Regions from separate parts of the Homo sapiens genome. Here region 2 is linked to region 1. Evidence: fine-mapped expression QTL. Tissue or cell type: whole blood. Region 1 holds a variant in brackets; the other region holds the start of a gene. All regions are shown on one strand. Distances are from middle to middle.

Evidence for each region. PIP is the estimated chance that this variant, and not a neighbour inherited with it, causes the effect.
Region 2: it holds the start of LINC02604, and the variant in region 1 is fine-mapped to the expression of LINC02604 in whole blood (TOPMed, PIP above 0.99).

Annotation. Positions count from the first base shown.
Region 1 is chr7:66,841,094-66,849,279 of GRCh38, forward strand. It overlaps the pseudogene GTF2IRD1P1 and the pseudogene GTF2IP23. Among named protein-coding and RNA genes, the nearest start is that of LINC02604, 59 kb to the right of the region's middle. RefSeq lists enhancers at 3,362-3,862, 3,677-3,796, 3,863-4,364, 7,825-8,186 and a silencer at 3,387-3,496. The variant C/T (reference allele first, on the strand shown) is at 4,220.
Region 2 is chr7:66,900,263-66,908,434 of GRCh38, forward strand. It overlaps LINC02604 (long intergenic non-protein coding RNA 2604), which reads left to right and starts at 3,858. Exons shown (of 1, transcript NR_136637.1): 1 at 3,858-6,035.

The sequences.
Region 1 (8,186 bases):
ATCCACCCACCTCACCTTCCCAAAGTGCTGGGATTACAGGAATGAGCCACCAAGCCCAGCCTCGTGTGGGCGTGTATTTATTTTGAGACAGAGTCTCGCTCTGTCACCCACCCAGGCTGTAGTGCAGTGGCACAATCTCAGCTCACTGCAACCTCTGCCTCCTGGGTTCAAGCGATTCTCCTGCCTCAGCCTCCCGAGTAGCTGGGATTACAGGTGCCTGCCACCACGCCCAGCTAATTTTTTGTATTTTTAGTAGAGACGGTGTTTCACCATGTTGGTCAGGCTGGTCTCAAACTCCTGAACTCAGGTGATCCACCCACCTCAGACTCCCAAAGGGCTGGGATTACAGGTATAAGCCACTGCACCTGGCCTTTATTTTCATTTAATGAGAACCTCAGCCAGGCGCAGTGGCTCAGCCCTGTTATCCCAGCCTTTTGGGAGGCCAAGGCAGGAGGATCACTTGAGGCCAGGAGTTCAAGACCAATCTGAACAACATAGTGAGACCTTGGTCTCTGTTAAAAAAAAAAAAAAAATAGAGACGACCTCATTGAGGGCATACAGGAAATAAAACTAAGATATATTTTGGCTTTGTAAATCAGTGTTTTCACATACGGAATCGGCTGAACCTGGTAGGTGGAGGTTGGAGCGAAGTTGTGCTACTGCACTCCAGCCTGGGCAACAGGGTGAGATTCCGTCTCAAAAAAACAAACAAAAAAAATCCAGGTGAGAACACAGGACAATTTGTTTAAAATAGTCATCACATGAGTTAGCACATAGAAAAAAACATACAAAGGGTAGATACTAGGAATACTAGTGGTTGCCTGAGGAAGATGTGATTGCAGCTTTCCTTCATGTGTTACATAGTTTTTGGTATGTTTTGTTTTAAGAGACAGGGTCTTGCTCTGTTGCCCAGTGCAGTGGTGCAATCACAGCCCACTGCAGCCTCAACCTCTTGGGCTCAAGCAATTCTCCCGAATAGCTGGGACTACAGGTATATACCACCAAATCCAGTTAATTGTTTTATTTTTTGTAGAGATGGGGTCTTGCTATGCTGCCCAGGCTGGTTGTAAACTCCTGGGATCAAGCGATCCACCTGCCTCAGTCTCCTCAGTAGCTGGAACTAGAGGCGTGCACCACCACGGCTGGCTACTTTTTAAAATTTTTTGTAGAGAAAGGGTTTCGCCATGTTGCCCAAGCTGGTCTCGAATTCCTGGGCTCGAGTGATCCTCCCACATTGGCCTCCCAAAGTGCTAGGATTACAGACATGAGCCACTGCACCTGCTCCATGTGTTACACAGTTCTCTATCATTTAACTGTTTCATATCATACATGTGTAAACAGAAAAAGCACACACATGCAAAATCCTCTAATGTTTGCATTTTCTGTAGAGATGGAGTCTCACTATGTTGCCCAGGCTGATCTTAAACTGCTGGACTCAAGTGATCTGCCCACCTCGGCCTCCCAAAGTGTTGGGATTACAGGTATGAGCCACTGTGCCTGGCCCTAAGTATTTATTTTAAGCCACTAGGTCTGGAGTAATTTGTTACATAGCAGCAGATAAATAATACACATATTTTCTATAGTGATCACATTTATAATTCAAATTGAGTTTAAAAGGCTGGGAGCAGTGGCTCATGCCTGTAATCCTAGCACTTTAGGAGCTGTGTCATCTTTGGAAAGGTACTTGAACTCTCTGTGCCTTAGAATCCGTTTTCTAAAATGTGGGCGGGGCACAGTGGCTCATGCCTGTAATCCCAGCACTTTGGGAGGCCGAGTCGGGTGGATCATCTGAGGTCAGGAGTTCAAGACCAGCCTGGTCAACAAAGTGAAACCTGGTCTCTAGTAAAAACACAAAAATTAGCTGGGTGTGGTAGTGGGCACCTGTAATCCCAGCTACTGGGGAGGCTGAGGTTGGAGAATTGCTTGAACCCAGGAGGCAGAGGTTGCAGTGAGCCATGATCACGCCACTGCACTCCAGCCTGGATGACAGAGCAAGAATCTGTCTCGAAAACAAACAACAAAAAAGTGGATAGCAGCATCTACCTGGAAGAATTGTTGTGGGATCAACAGTGCAGAGAATCTAGCAAGTATAAAAGAAAAAAAAGTATCAGGACCCTCTATAAATTTATCATGCCAAGAGGGAAGTTACACCCTGACCGAGTCACATAGCATGTTTGTAACTTCTGCTTCTTAAATTATAATTTATTCCTTCCTTATTATTTTCATTCTGCAAATGACTATGAGAGACCAGAGACTAGTCGTCCTCTCCTTACAATCACTTATCTTTGTTACAGATTAACTGCCTCCTTTATTGTTCTGTACCTAACTCACACCAGATGGCACAAAAGACCCCATGACTTACATCTTCAGTGTAGAAGGTAAAATACACCTTTCCCGGAAAAAAGACCACCTCGTCTGGGTGCAGTCGCTCATGCCTGTAATCCCAGTACTTTGGGAGGCCGAAGTGAGAGGACTGCTTATGCCCAGGAATTTGAGACTGGCCTGGGCAATGTGGTGAAACCCTGTCTCTACAAAAAATACAAAAATTAGTCAGGTGTGTTGGTGCACGCCTGTAGTCCCAGCTCCTAGGGATGCCCAGGTGGGAGGATCGCTTGAGCCAGGGAGGCTGAGGCTGTAATGAGTTGCGATTGCACTACTGCACTCCAGCCTGGGTGACAGAGTGAAAGAAAGACCACCTGGACCAATCAGATTGTTTTAACTATGTATTAAGCCTTAAACGGAGAGATGCTGAAATTCTGCTAAGCTTCCCTAAACTTTGTCTATGCAAGTGATCCCAAACTTCTAAGCCTTGGAACACTGTCTTCCACTCTTGGGTATCTGTGCTTCCCAGGTGGCCCTCCTTAAACTCTGCATGAATAAACTCCCTTTAGATTCTGACCCTGTTGATTATTTGAGGTTGACACACTGTGCAATATACATCAGAATACCAATTTTTTTTTTTTTTAGACGGAGTCTCTCTCTCTGTCGCCCAGGCTGGAGTGCAGTGGCGCGATCTCGCCTCACTGCAACCTCCGCCTCCCGGGTTCAAGCAATTCTCTGCCTCTGCCTCAGTCTCCCAAGTAGCTGGTATTACAGGTGCCCGCTACCACGCCAGGCTAATTTTTGTATTTTTGGTAGAGACGGGGTTTCACCATGCTAGCCAGGATGGTCTTGAATTCCTGACCTCGTGATCCACCCGCCTCGGCCTCCCAAAGTGCTGGATTACAGGCGTGAACCACTGCGCCCGGCCCGATCGCTTATATTTTTAAAAAGATGTTTTCTGCGTTTCCTAGCCCCTTGTACCCCCGCTACAAAGTTCCAAAGGCTTTAATGTTGTTGCAACGGCCATCAGCTGTCAAGATGGGGGGTTCAGCTCCCTAAAGCGGGGCAGCCTCAGAGGGAGCCGAGCCTGCCCAGGATGAGCGGCGCCGGGCGGCGGGGGACGCTGCGGGGTCCCCGGTCCCTGGCTGGAGGAGGTGTTGGGGGGCGCACGTACCCAGCCTCAGGTGAGGCGAGTGTGCGGCAACGGCTGCAGCCGGAGCTAGCCGGCTTGCAGTGGCCATTAAGGAGCTTCTGCCCGACCTTCTGTTTGTGCCCGCCAGGCGACAACCGCTTGGTGTGCAGCGCCTGCTCGCTCAGCGTCAGGCCCTTGCTGCGCCCTACGCTGCAGGCTGGGAAGTCGCGCCGGTAGTAGTAGCACAGGCAGTGGGAAAGCTCCTCCTTGTAGCTTACTGGTGTTGGCCGCCGGGTCGGAGCCTGCGAACACTGACCGGCCGGCTGTGGCCACGCGTCTGCGCATGCGCGCTTCTGGACGACCCGGCAGCCGCTCCTCGAGTTCCGATTGGTTCCACATGAGGGGCGTGGCTCTCTGTCGTCACTGGGGAGCGCCTTCGCTGACGTCACAGGCGCGGGCCCTCGGCGACGCAATAGCGCCAGGCCTTCCGCGTCGTCAGAGTGACGGTACAGTGCCTGGAGCTGGGCTGTTTTGTCTTCAGAGTGGTGCCTGGTAACCGCGACTTCCCCGCCATGTTCTGTGTGTTGCTGGCTGGAGAAGGGTGGTTGACAAACTCTGACCCAGCACGGTGTTTCTGTGGGTCAAAACTAGAAAACTATATCCGGGCGCCGAGGTGAAAGGATCCCTTCAGGCCAGGAGTTAAAGAGCAGCCTAGGCAACGTGGCGCGACCCCATCTCTGTAGTCCCACCTCAGCTTCCCAGATA[C/T]TTGAACCCCAAAGTTCAAGGCTGCAGTGAGCTATGATCCCATCACAGCACTCCAGCCTGCGAGACTGAGGTAAACCCTGTCTAAAAAAGTAAAAAAACTATCCAAGTGTGCAACAGGGAGGGACTGCTTAAAGAAAACAGAATTGTATGTTCAAATACTTTTAACAAGTGCAAAATGTATAGGCTGAAATAAATAGAGCTGGCCGAGCGCGTTTGCTCACGCCTGTAATGCCAACATTTTCGGTGCCCTAGGCAGGCCATCACTTGAAGTCAGGAACTCGAGGCCAGCCTGGCCAACATGGTGAAACCCCATGTCTACTAAAAATATAAAAATTAGGCCGGGCACCTTGCATCGTTTCAGGGGGCTGACACCTCCCTAAGGGCCCGGTAATTGAATCCCTCGGATTTGAGAGTGAGAAACCTTGGCTCAGTTCTTCCCAGGGGGATCAGCCCAGGGGTAAGCGAGGAGAGGCCAGAAAGCAGGACCCATGAGAAGGACCCCCTCCTGGAGTTTGAGGCCCATTCCTTCCTGCCCCTGCGTCTCCTCTTTCCAGGACTCCTCCCTGCTCTGCCGCACTCCTGGGGCCATGGCCATGGGGGGCTGCATTTGGGTACAGGCCCCAGCGGCAACCCTGGGCCCAAAATGGGCGGGCTCACCTGGAGGGGATCAGAGTAACATGGCAAGAAGCAGGAAAAGCCGCGCTGGAACCGCACCTCTCTGCCCCCTGATGTCAGTGGGTGCACTCTTCCCTCACCTCACTCAGGCAGCGGCATGAGTTCCATGGGAGCACTGTCCTGCTCCCTCTGCTGCCTCTTTTTAGTCTTGGGGCTACCATAACACTTTCCCTTCCCCAGCCCTGCCAACCTGGTGGCACATTGGGCTTCCCTCTTACACGGTCCTGGGGACAGGCCCGTCTTGTATCATACCTGCAGCGAGACCCTTTTTTTCTCCAGGGCCTGGGGAGCAGCCAGGCTTCCTGAGCCAAATACAGATCTGAACCATACCAAGCTGGGATTGGGGTACACACTCTCCTCCTCTGAAAACTAGCTAGGGGTTCGAACTTGGTGAGAGGGAGAGTGTGACAGAGCCAGACCAGACAAGGACTGATCACCTGGAAAAACCTGCCATCAAAGACCTTGACGAGTGCTGGGTGCGGTGGCTCACGCCTGTAATCCCAGCACTTTGGGAGGCTGAGAGAGGTGGATCACTTGAGGCCAGGAGTTCAAGTCCAGCCTGGGCAACATGGCAAAACCATTATCTCTACTAAAAAAATTAGCTAGGTATGCTACGCTCCTATAATCCCTGCTATTCGGGAGGCTGAGGCAGGAGAATCGTTTGAACTGGAGAGGTAGAGGTTGAAGTGAGCCAAGATCGTGGCACTGTACTCCAGCCTGGGAGACAGAGTGAAACTGTGTCTCAAAAAAAAGAAAAAAGAAAATGGCTTTGGCAGAGGGGCTGGCCTGGCAGTGCCTTACCTTGGGTTTCTCCTGGGTAGGCCTCTGCCATGAGGAGGCACTTCCTTCTGCCTGTCCATGGCCCACAGCAAAGGAATGTCTGCTTCTGGGGGTTGGGTGGGGGACTGCTGGCAGAACTGGAAACCTTCTTCAGGTGGGTTTTTTTTTTTTTTTTTTTTTTGAGACGGAGTCTCACTCTGTCACCCAGGCTGGAGGGCAGTGGCACAATCTCAGCTCACTGCAACCTTCACCCCCTCCCCGCCCCCCTGCCGTGTTTAAGTGATTCCCATGTCTCAGCTTCCTGAGTAGCTGAGATTGCAGGCATGCGCCACCACACCTGTCTAATTTTTGTAGAGACGGGGTTTCACCATGTTGGCCAGGCTGGTCTGGAACTCCTGATCTGAAGTGATCTGCCCACCTCGGCTTCCCAAAGTGCTGGGATTACAGGCGTGAGCCACTGCGCCTGGCCCCTTCAGGTGGGTATTGAGGCTTCACTACAATACTAGTTCCCCGTTGCTGCCGCAATAAATTACCACACACTTAGTGGCTTAAAACAGCACAGAGGTATTCCTTTACATTTCTGAAGGCCAGAATTCTAAAGTCAGTCCCACTGAGTCAACGTGGGAGCAGGGTCAGTGCCTTCCCAGGCTCTGCGGGAGAATCTGTTTCCTGGCCCTGGAGGCGGCCTGTACTCCTCAGCTTGTGCTGCCCTTCTCGAATGACTCGCGTTTCCTGCTTTCATCACTACACCTCCCACCGCTCTCCATCACCTGCTCTGCTCTTATAAGGATCCAGGTGAGTACATAAACCCTGTGGGGACAAGCTGGCCAAAGACTCTTAACTTCATTATACTTGCAAAGCCCCTTTTGCCATATAAGGTCATGTTCACCGGTTCCAGGGATTATGATGTGGGCATCTTGGGGGCATCAGCCTACTACAGCTAGGCTGCAAAACTATTACACCCTCCTGGTGTTTCAATGATTGGGAGAAAAAGGGTTGGGATTTTTTGCTTTGGGGTCCCTGTTAAACTTGTATCTGTAAGGTCTGGGGTCTCTCTTAACCTTATGTTTTTGTTTTTTCTTTTTTGAGACAGAGTCTTGTTCTGTCATCCAGGCTGGCAGTGGCGCAGTCTCAGCCCACTGCAACATCCACCTCCTGGGTTCAAGGAATTCTCCTGCCTTAGCCTCCCGAGTAGCTGAGACTACCGGCGCCTGCCACTAAGCCTGGCTAGGTTTTGTATTTTTGGTAGAGACGGGGTGGGACTGGGGGGTGGGGGAGGGGAGGGGGTTTTCCACTGTATTGCCCTTAGCTCAAAGCGGTCTGCCCAGCCTCTGCTCCTGAAATGCTAGGATTACAGGCCTGCACCACCACCACTGTAAAATATTACTTCCATACAGCTGAGACATGTTTTAGGAAGTTTGCTAAAAGACCCCTGGAGACCTCCTCATTGTGGCCTCCCTGTTGTCATGTTTAATTTGATTGATCTTTTCTGCACTCCTGCTTTTCATAAATTAAAAGGCTGAAAAGAGGTACTAAACTTTAAAACTTCTCTTATAGTCTCCCATTAAACTAATTCTAAGAACCACCAAAAAGGGGAACAATTTTTTTGAAAGCAGTAAAATGATATGATCTGTTAGGATGTAAAATACAGGAAATAAGTCATTATATGTTATTGCTGCTGTGGTATAGGGATGTATTATTGAGAATCAACTTCTGGTCAGTTTTCAGAAAAATGGAATAGTCGTATCACTGATCTACGTAAACAAGTTGAAGAATTGTCTGAAAGAAAATACAGTGTGTCTAAACTGGAAAAGTCCTGTAATAGTTTGTTCATGAGCATTTACACAATGGAGTTGCTGTTTCATCATGGGGGTACTGTGGACAAACCCAGGGCTGCTGGTGAGTCATGCCATCCTTACACGTCTTTCCTTGTAAGGTACTTTGTAGTGTCTGTCTAAATATTAGAAAGTTTCTTTGTTTCTAGATTACTTGAAAGCTAAGGAAAAGTTGTAGTTCTCTAATTATCAATTAGCATTTCTTTTATACTTTCAGTGTGGATATTTGGGATTTCTTTATATATTTATTGCAAAGCCCTAGATCTTAGGGATTTGACTGAAAAAAATATATATATATGCGTGTATATACACACGCGTATATATATACGCGCGTATATACACACGTGTGTATATACGCGTATATATATACACATGTGTATATATATATGTGTGTGTGTATATATATATATATATATATATATATATTTTTTTTTTTTTTTTTTTTTTTTTTTTTTCTTTTTGAGATGGAGTCTCGCCCTGTCACCGCGGCTGGAGTGCAGTGGCATGATCTCAGTTCACTGCAGCCTCCGTCTGCCAGGTTCAAGCAATTCTCTGCCTCAGCCTACCGAGCAGGTGGGATTACAGGCGCCTGCCACCATGCCCCACTAATTTTTGTATTTTTAGGTGAGCCAAGGTTTCACGATCTTGGCCAGGCTGGTCTTAAACTCTAGACATTG
Region 2 (8,172 bases), 59 kb after region 1:
AAGTGAGGTTCCAGAGAGGGCAGGAGAAGAGGAGATTCTTATAGGGGGATTAGCATTCCTCTCCCCTCCTCTCCCCTCCCCTCTCCTCCCTTCCCCTCCCCTTCCCTAAGACAGGGTCTCACTCTGCTGCTCAGGCGAGAGTGTACTGGCATGATCTTGGTTCACTACAGCCTAGACTTCCCAGGTTCAAGGGATCTTCCGACCCCAGACTCCCAAGTAGCTGGAACTACAGTTGTGCACCACCACCATACCTGGCTAATTTTTTTTTTTTTTTGGTAGACACAGTGTCTCACTAAGTTGCCCAGCCTGGTCTCCAACTTTTGGCCTCAAGCAGTCCTTCTACCTAGGCTTCCCAAATTGCTGGGATTACAGGCATGAGCCACCATGCCTGGCCTCTGCTAGTTTTGTATTCTCTAGAATTGTCTGTAGTTAGTGCTAGTGTGTCACTCATTATGCTGATCCTCTGTTATAATTAATATTTTTTATATTAAAGTTACTTTTTTTTTTTTTGGTATTGGGTCTCAGTCTGTCACCAAGGCTGGAGTGCAGAGGCATGATCTCTGCTCACAGCAACCTCCACTTCGAAGGCTCAAGCAATTCTCCATCCTCAGCCTCCCAAGTAACTGGGATTACAGGTATGTGCCAGCATGCCTGGCTAATTTTTGTGCTTTTTTTGTGCTTTTTGTAGAGACAGGGTTTTGCCGTGTTTCCCAGGCTGGTCTCAACTCCTGAGCTCAAAGTAATCCACCCGCCTTGGCCTCCCAAAGCGCTGGGATTACAGGTTTGAGCCACCGTGCGCATTCCAGTTTAAACTTTTGAGCGGTTTATATGTTTTGATTGGACTCCTAGAAATACAGAATTGATGCTAGGAAGAGTACCAGGAGATAGACACATATACATGGGATTTCAGCCTTGGTTTGGTTATCCAAGGAGCAGTGCTGAGTTTCTTGCCAATGGGACATGGGATGCTGGTGATTTCCAGGAAGTGTCCTCACAATGAGTGAAGCTACCACTTACTGTTTATTGTGATGAAATGCTAGCCAAGGCATATGCCATGCGAGTTAACGGATGCTATGCTTCACCACTGTGGCAATAAAGATGACTCTGAAGAATGGCATGGGACGGAACCTTTCAAATGCACCTGAGCAGGGGTCTCCACCACAGGGCCACAGAGCTGGTGGTGAGCAGCAAAGTGAGGGGAAAATTCGTTTGTATTTATAGCCCCTCCCCATCGCTCGCATAACCACCTGAGCGTCATGTCCTGACAGGTCCAGCTACTGCCTTCCAGTGACCTCTTTAGGCTCATCTCATGCTTCACCGTGGCCTCGCCAAACCAAGCTGCTGCGTTTCAGCAGCCTCTGCAGCAGAGGCCGAGCTCTGCGTCCTGATCATCCTGATGGCCTCTTTAGGCCCAGCTCATTTCTCACAACGGCCACCTTAGGCCCAGCTTTTCCCTTTTGGTGGCCTCTCCAGGCCGAGAAATTCCTCAAGTCGGCCTCCCCCACCGCAGTTGCTGCCTCCCGGCCTCTTCTCCAGTCCCAGTCCTCTCTCGCAGCTGTGTCTACAGGCCCAGCTCCTGCCTCCAAAGAGCCTCTTTTGACTCGGCTCCTACCCAGCTCCTGGCAGCCTTTGTAGGCCTGAAATCTCTTCCAGTCCAGCACTCCATACCCAGTCTCCCCTCACAGCGGCCTTCCCAGGCCCAGCTTTTGCCTCACAGCGGCCTTCCCCGGCCATTTTCTAGCCGGCCTCGCGGTAGCCTCAACAAGCCCAGCTCCCGCCTCACACTGGCCTCTCTAGGCCCAGCTCAGGCGTCACAGTGGCGTCTCCAGGCCCAGCTCCCGCCCACCCCAACAGCGTCTCGCGGCTCAAGGCGTTCTCAAGATGGCCCTTCCAGGCCAAGTTCCTGCCTCCCGCCGATGGCCCGTGTGGGCCCAAAGCGTCCTGAAGTCGGCCTCGCCAGGCCCAGCTCCTGCCTGTCGTAGGCGCCTAGAGGCATGGCCTCTGCCTCCTCACAGTGGACCCCCCCAGACCCAGCTCTTGCTTCAGCATGGCCACCTCAGGCCAAGCTCCTGCCTTGCCTGTTGGCAGCCTCCACAGGCCCAGCTCTTGCCTCTCGCCATCCTCTCCAGGTCCAGAACTGTTTCCAGCCGGCCTCTCCAGGCCCAGCTCTCCCTCCCGGCTGTGGCTGCCGGCCCAGCTCCTGCCTCGCAACAGGCACGTTCGGCCCAACTCCTGCCCAGCTCATGGCAGCATTTGTAGGCCCCAGGCTCCTCTAAGTCAGGCCTTCCAGGCCCTGCCTTCAGCTCCCTGGCGGCCTGGAGAGGCCCAGCTCCTGCCTGACAGCGGCCTCTCCGGGCCCAGCTCTTGTCTCGCGTCGGCCTCCCCGGGACACATTTCCCCCTGCCTCGCGGCAGCCCCGAAAGACCCAGCTCCTGCCTCCTGATGGCCTCTTTAGGCTCATCTCATGCCTCACTGCAGCCTCCCCCAGGCCAGGCTCCTGCCTTTCGGCGGCTTCCGCAGGTCCGGCTCCTGCGTCCTGACGGCCTCTTTAGGCCCGGCTCGTCCCTCACAATGGCCTCTTTCAAAGGCCCAGCTTTTCCTTCGTGGCGGCCTCTCCAGGCCCAAATTGGCAAGCCTCCCCTGTCCTGGTGGCTGTCTCCCGGCCTACTCTCCAGGCCCAGCACACTCTCGCGGCTGTACCTCCAGGCCCAGCCCCTGCCTGCAGACAGCCGCTTTTGACTCGGTTCGTGCCCAGCTCCTGGCGGCCTTTGTAGGCCCGAAACCTCCTCCAGCACAGCTCTTCAGGCCCACCTGTGGCCTCGCAGCGGCCTTCCCAGGCCCAGCTCTTGCCTCACGGCGGCCTTCCCCGGCTGTATTCCTGCCAGCCTCTCGGCGGCCTCAAAAAGCCCGGCGCCTGCCTCACACTGGGGTCTCTAGGCCCAGCTCACGCCTGACGGTGGTCTCTCAAGGCCCAGCTCCCGCCCACCCCGACCGGCCCAAGGCTTTCTCAAGTTGGCCCATCCAGGGCCCAATTCCTGCCCTCCGCTGATGGCCTGTGCAGACCCAAAGTATCCTGAAGTCGGCCTCGCCGGGCCTAGCTCCTGCCTGTCATAGGCCCCTAGAAGCACGGCCTCTGCCTTCTAAAAGTGGAACCCCCCAGTCCCAGCTGTTGCCTCAGCGTGGCCACATCAGCCGAAGCTCCTGCCCTGCCTGTTGGCAGCCTCCATGGGCCAAGCTCTTGCCTCTCACCATCCTCTCCAGGCCCAGTACTGTTTCCAGCCGGCCTCTCCAGGCCCAACTCTCCCTCTCAGCTGTGCCTGCCGGCCCAGCTCCTACCTCGCAAAAGCCACGTTCGGCCCAGCTCCTGCCCAGCTCCTGGCAGCCTTTGTAAACCCCAGGATCCTCTAAGTCAGGCCTTTCAGGCCCTGCCTTTGGCTCCCCGGTGGCATGGAGAGGCCCAGCTCCTGCCTGACAGCGGCCTCTCCAGGCCCAGCTCTTGCCTCACGTTGGCCTCCCTGGGCCACGTTTCCGCCTGCCTCGCGGCAGCCCCGACAATCCCGGCTCCTGCCTCCCGATGGCATCTTTAGGCTCATCTCGTGCCTCACCACGGCCTGCACCAGGCCACACTCCTGCCTTTCGGTGGCCTCCGCGGGCCTGACTCCTGCGTCCCAATGGCCTCTTTAGGCCCGGCTCGTGCCTCGCCGCGGCCTCCTGAGGCCCACCTTTGCCCTTCTGGCAGCCTCTCCAGGCCCAGGACTTCCTCAAGTCGGCCTCTGCCAGCCCAGTGGCCGCCTCCCGGCCTCCTCTCCGGGCCCAGCTCCTTGCTCGTGGCTGCGCCCGCGGGCCCAGCTCCTGCCTCTGAACATCCTCCTGTGACTCGGCTCCTGCCCAGCTCCCAGCGGCCTCCGTAGACCCGAAGCCTCCTCCGGTCCAGCTCTCCAGGCCTGCCTCCTGCCTCGTGGCGGCCTTCCCCGGCCATGCTCGTGCCGGCTTCCCGGCAGCCTCCACGAGCCCGGCTCCTGCCTCACGCGGGCCCCTCCAGGCCCAGCTCGTGCCTCGCGGCGGCCTCTCCAGGCCCGGCTCCCGCCCAGCCCGACGGCGTCTCCCAGCCCAAGGCTCCCTTCCTCAACGTCGGCCCCTCTGGGCCCAGCTCCTGCCTCCCGCTGATGGCCTGTGCGGGCCCACCCGAGGCGGCCCGAAGTCGGCCTCGCCAGGCCCAGCTCCTGCCTGGCGTAGGCCCCTGGGGGCACGGCCTCTGCCCCACAGTGGCCCCTCCGGGCCCAGCTCGTGCCTCGGCTTGGCCGCCTCAGGCCCAGCTCCTGCCTGTGGGCGGCCTCTCTCCAGACCCGGCTCTCGCCTCCCGGCATCCTCTCCAGGCCCAGAGCTGTTTCCAGTTGCTAGACCATTTTTGTGCCTGCCTCGTTGCAGCATCTCCAAGCCCAGCTTTTGCTTTTCTGCAGTTTCTTGAGGCCGAACTCCATTTTTCGAATGGCTTATTTAGGCCCAGCTCTTGCGTTTGCATTGTCCCTTCAGGCCCAGAACTTTCTCACGTCATCGTCACCAGGCCTAGCTTCTGCATCTGGTCAGCCTTTTAAGGCCCAGCTTTTGCCTCATAAACTCAGCTCCTGTTTAATGGCGGCCTCCCAGGTCCCACCTTCTGCCTTCCTGTGTCCACTCCAGGCCCAGCTACTGCCTTGGTGCTCTTTTTAAGTCAATAATTTTTTCCAGTCGACCTCTCCAGGCCCAACTTGTACCTCTGAGTGTCCTCTAGGATCTCAGCTTCTGCCTAACAATGACCTCTTTAGACTCAGCTCATTTTCACTGCTACATCTTCAAGCCATTCTCCTGCCTCTTGGCAACCTCTAGTGGCCCAGCTTCTGCCTCACAGCAGCCTCTCCATGCATGCCTAGCTCCTGCCTCTTTAGGGAACTTACAGGCCTAAAACTTTCTTAATTTGGGCTTCTCAGGCCCAGCTCCTGCCTTCTGTTGGCCTCTACAGGCCTGGCATCATCCTTTCAACAGCCTCTTTAGGCCCGGCCTCTCCAGGACCAAAACATCCTTAAGTCAACCTCACCAGGCCCGGCTCCTGTCTCCTTGCGGCCTCCAGAGGCCGAGCTTTTGCCTGCCAATGGCCTCTCTAGCCCCAGCTTTTGCCTGCCAATGGCCTCTCTAGCCCCAGCTTCTGCCTTTCATCGGTCTCTCCAGGCTTAGCTCCTTTCTCTTCACGGCCTCTGCAGGCCTAAAACTTCCTCAATTTGGCATCTCCAGGCCCAGCTCCTGCCTCCAGGCCGCCTCTGCAGGCCTATCTCAAGCCTTACAACAGCCTCTTTACCCCCAGCTCCTTTCTCCGACTTGTCTCTCCAGGCCTAGAACTTCCTCATGTTTACCTCACCAGGCCCACCTCCTGCCTTCCAGTAGCGTCTACAAGTTTGGCTCCTGCCTCCCATGGATCTCTCCAGGCCCCAAACTTTCTCAAGTCAACCTCACCAGGCCCGGCTTCTCCCTTTCATCAGCCTTCCAAAGGCCAGCTTTTGCTTCATGTCTGCCTTCCGAGTCCCAGCTCCTGTTTTATGGCAGCCTCCTGAGGCCCAGCTCCTGCCTCCTAGTGGCCTCTTTTGGCCCAACTCTTTCCTCACCAGGGCCTTCCAGACCACGTTCCTGCCTTTTAGCAGCCACTACAGGCCCAGCTTTGCGTCCTTTCAAGAGTCCTGCCTCACAGTGGCCTCCCAAGGGCAACTTTCTGCCTCATGTCAGCCTCTTGTGCCCTGGTCCTGCTTCCTGGTAGACTCTGCAGGCCCTGCTCCTGCCTTACGTTGCCCCTTTTATAAAGATCCAGTTCCTGCCTCCTGGCTGCCTCTATGAGCCCAAATCCTGCCTAACAACAACCTGTTTTTGCCCAGCTCCTGCTTCCTGGCAGCCTCCTTAGGCCAAAAATTTCCTTCAGTTGACCTCTCCAGGCCCAGCTCCTGCCTCTCAGCACCCTCTTTAGGCCCAGCTCCTGCCTTAATAAATTTGAATAAATTATTGTTATGTGATTATTATGTGAAACATTTTTTCTTCAAAAGGTAATGAAAATTGAGGTAAAGTATAAAAGTCTAGCATATAAATTCCTCTATTGTCACCCTTCGTATTAGTCACAGTTCTCTAAAGGAGCAGAACTGTTAGGATAGATGTATATATATAAGGGAGTTTCTTAAGGGGTATTAACTCACAGGATCACAAGGTTCCACAATAGGCTGTCTGCAAGCTGAGGAGCAAGGAAGCCATTCTGAGTCCCAAACCTGAAGAACTTGGAGTCCGATGTTCTAGGGCAGGAACCATCCAGCATGGGAGAAAGATGTAGGCTCGGAGGCTAAGCCAGTCTCACCTCTTTATGTTCCTCTGCCTCATTTTTATTTTTGCCACACTGGCAGCTGATTAGATTGTGCCCACCTAGTTTAAGGGCGGGTCTGCCTTTCCCAGCCCCCTGACTCAAATGTTAATCTCCTTTGGCAACACCCTCACATACACACCCAGGAACAATACTTTGCATCCTTCAGTCCAATAGAGTTGACAGTCAATATTAACCATCACAAGTTCACCCCTTGTCAACTTTAACCCATACACATCTTCTGAAATTATACATAATCTTCAAATAAAGATAATAATAAGGTCATAATTGTGCCTAAGATAATAATAAAAGTATTCTTCATACAACTGGAAATGCACCAATCCTGAACCCAAATGCCCTTATATAAAACTAACACTTAGATGCTTATATGAAGTCAATATAAGTTATTCACACAATAAAGGAAAAAGGAAATGAAATATTCTTAGTACAAGCTTATATATGCACAAACATGTTTTTAACAAAAGGAGGAAATACTCATGACAATTACAGTCCTCGTTTCTGTAGCTGGTCACATGGTCATAGCTGGTATTGATGACTGCCTTTTTCTATTACCCATTCTGTATTCTTTTTGCCTTCAGAAAGCATCTCAGCAGGTTTTTTCCTGGAGTGACCCAAGCCTTCATTCCTGAAGGGTCTGGGCCATTTGTAGTCCTGCCTGGGTTGGGCTGTTATAGTTTCCCATTGACCTTAATCACAGGGCATCTCCTGTATTCCATGCATATTCTTCCTTACCTCCATTGTGGAGTAGTAGACTGATTTCATCTTGATAGTCTGGGTCAATCATCCCAGAAGGTTGTAACTCCCTTCTTAGCCTGTTGATTTAAAAGTGGCAGGACCCCAAAGTGTCCAGGTGGCAATCGTAACTTCCAGTTTAATGGAATCGTTGTGTCTCCTGGTGGCAGCTTTCTTCCCTCTGGATCTAAGACCTCTAGACCAGCAGAATGTAATGTTGTGGGAACAGGTAGCCAAAATTTTCTAGTGGATCACTAGGGGTGATGGTGAGTGATGCCACTTCCACTTCCACCCCTTGATTCCTGGACCTGTGAATCCTGGCTATGGGATAAACAATGCCATATATTGGATGCTGATTCAGAGCAGACATGGCCTTCTGGAGAAATTTGCCCCAGCCCCGCAGAGTATTATCACCTAGTTGGCATTGTAATTGTGACTTCAAAAGGCCATTCCACCATTCTATCAATCCAGCTGCTTCGGGATGGTGGGGAACATGGTGGGATCAGTGAATTCCAAGAGCATGAGCCCACTGTCACACTAGCTGTAAAGTGAGTGCCTTGGTCAGAGGCAATGCTGTGTGGAATACCATGACGGTGGATAAGGCATTCCGTGAATCCACAGATGGTAGTCTTAGCAGAAGCATTGCGTGTAGGATAGGCAAACTCATATCTGGAGTGTCCATTCCAGGGAGGAGAAACCTCTGCCCTTTCCATGATGGAAGAAGTCCAATATAATCAATCTGCCACCATGTAGCTGTGTGATCACCCAAGGAATGATGCCATATCAAGGGCTCAGTGTTGGGCACTGCTGCTGGAAAATGGGGCACTCAGCAGTGGCTGTAGCCAGGTCTGCCTTGGTGAGTGAAAGTCCATGTTGCTGAGAAAGTCTATCCCTGCCACCATGGCCACTTTGTTTATGAGCCCATTGGGCGATGGCAGTGGTGACTGGGGAAAAGGCTGAGTGGTGTCTACAGAATGAGGCACCCTGTCCACTTGATTATTAAAATCCTCCTCCGCTGAGGTCACCCTTTGGTGAGCACTCACATGAGA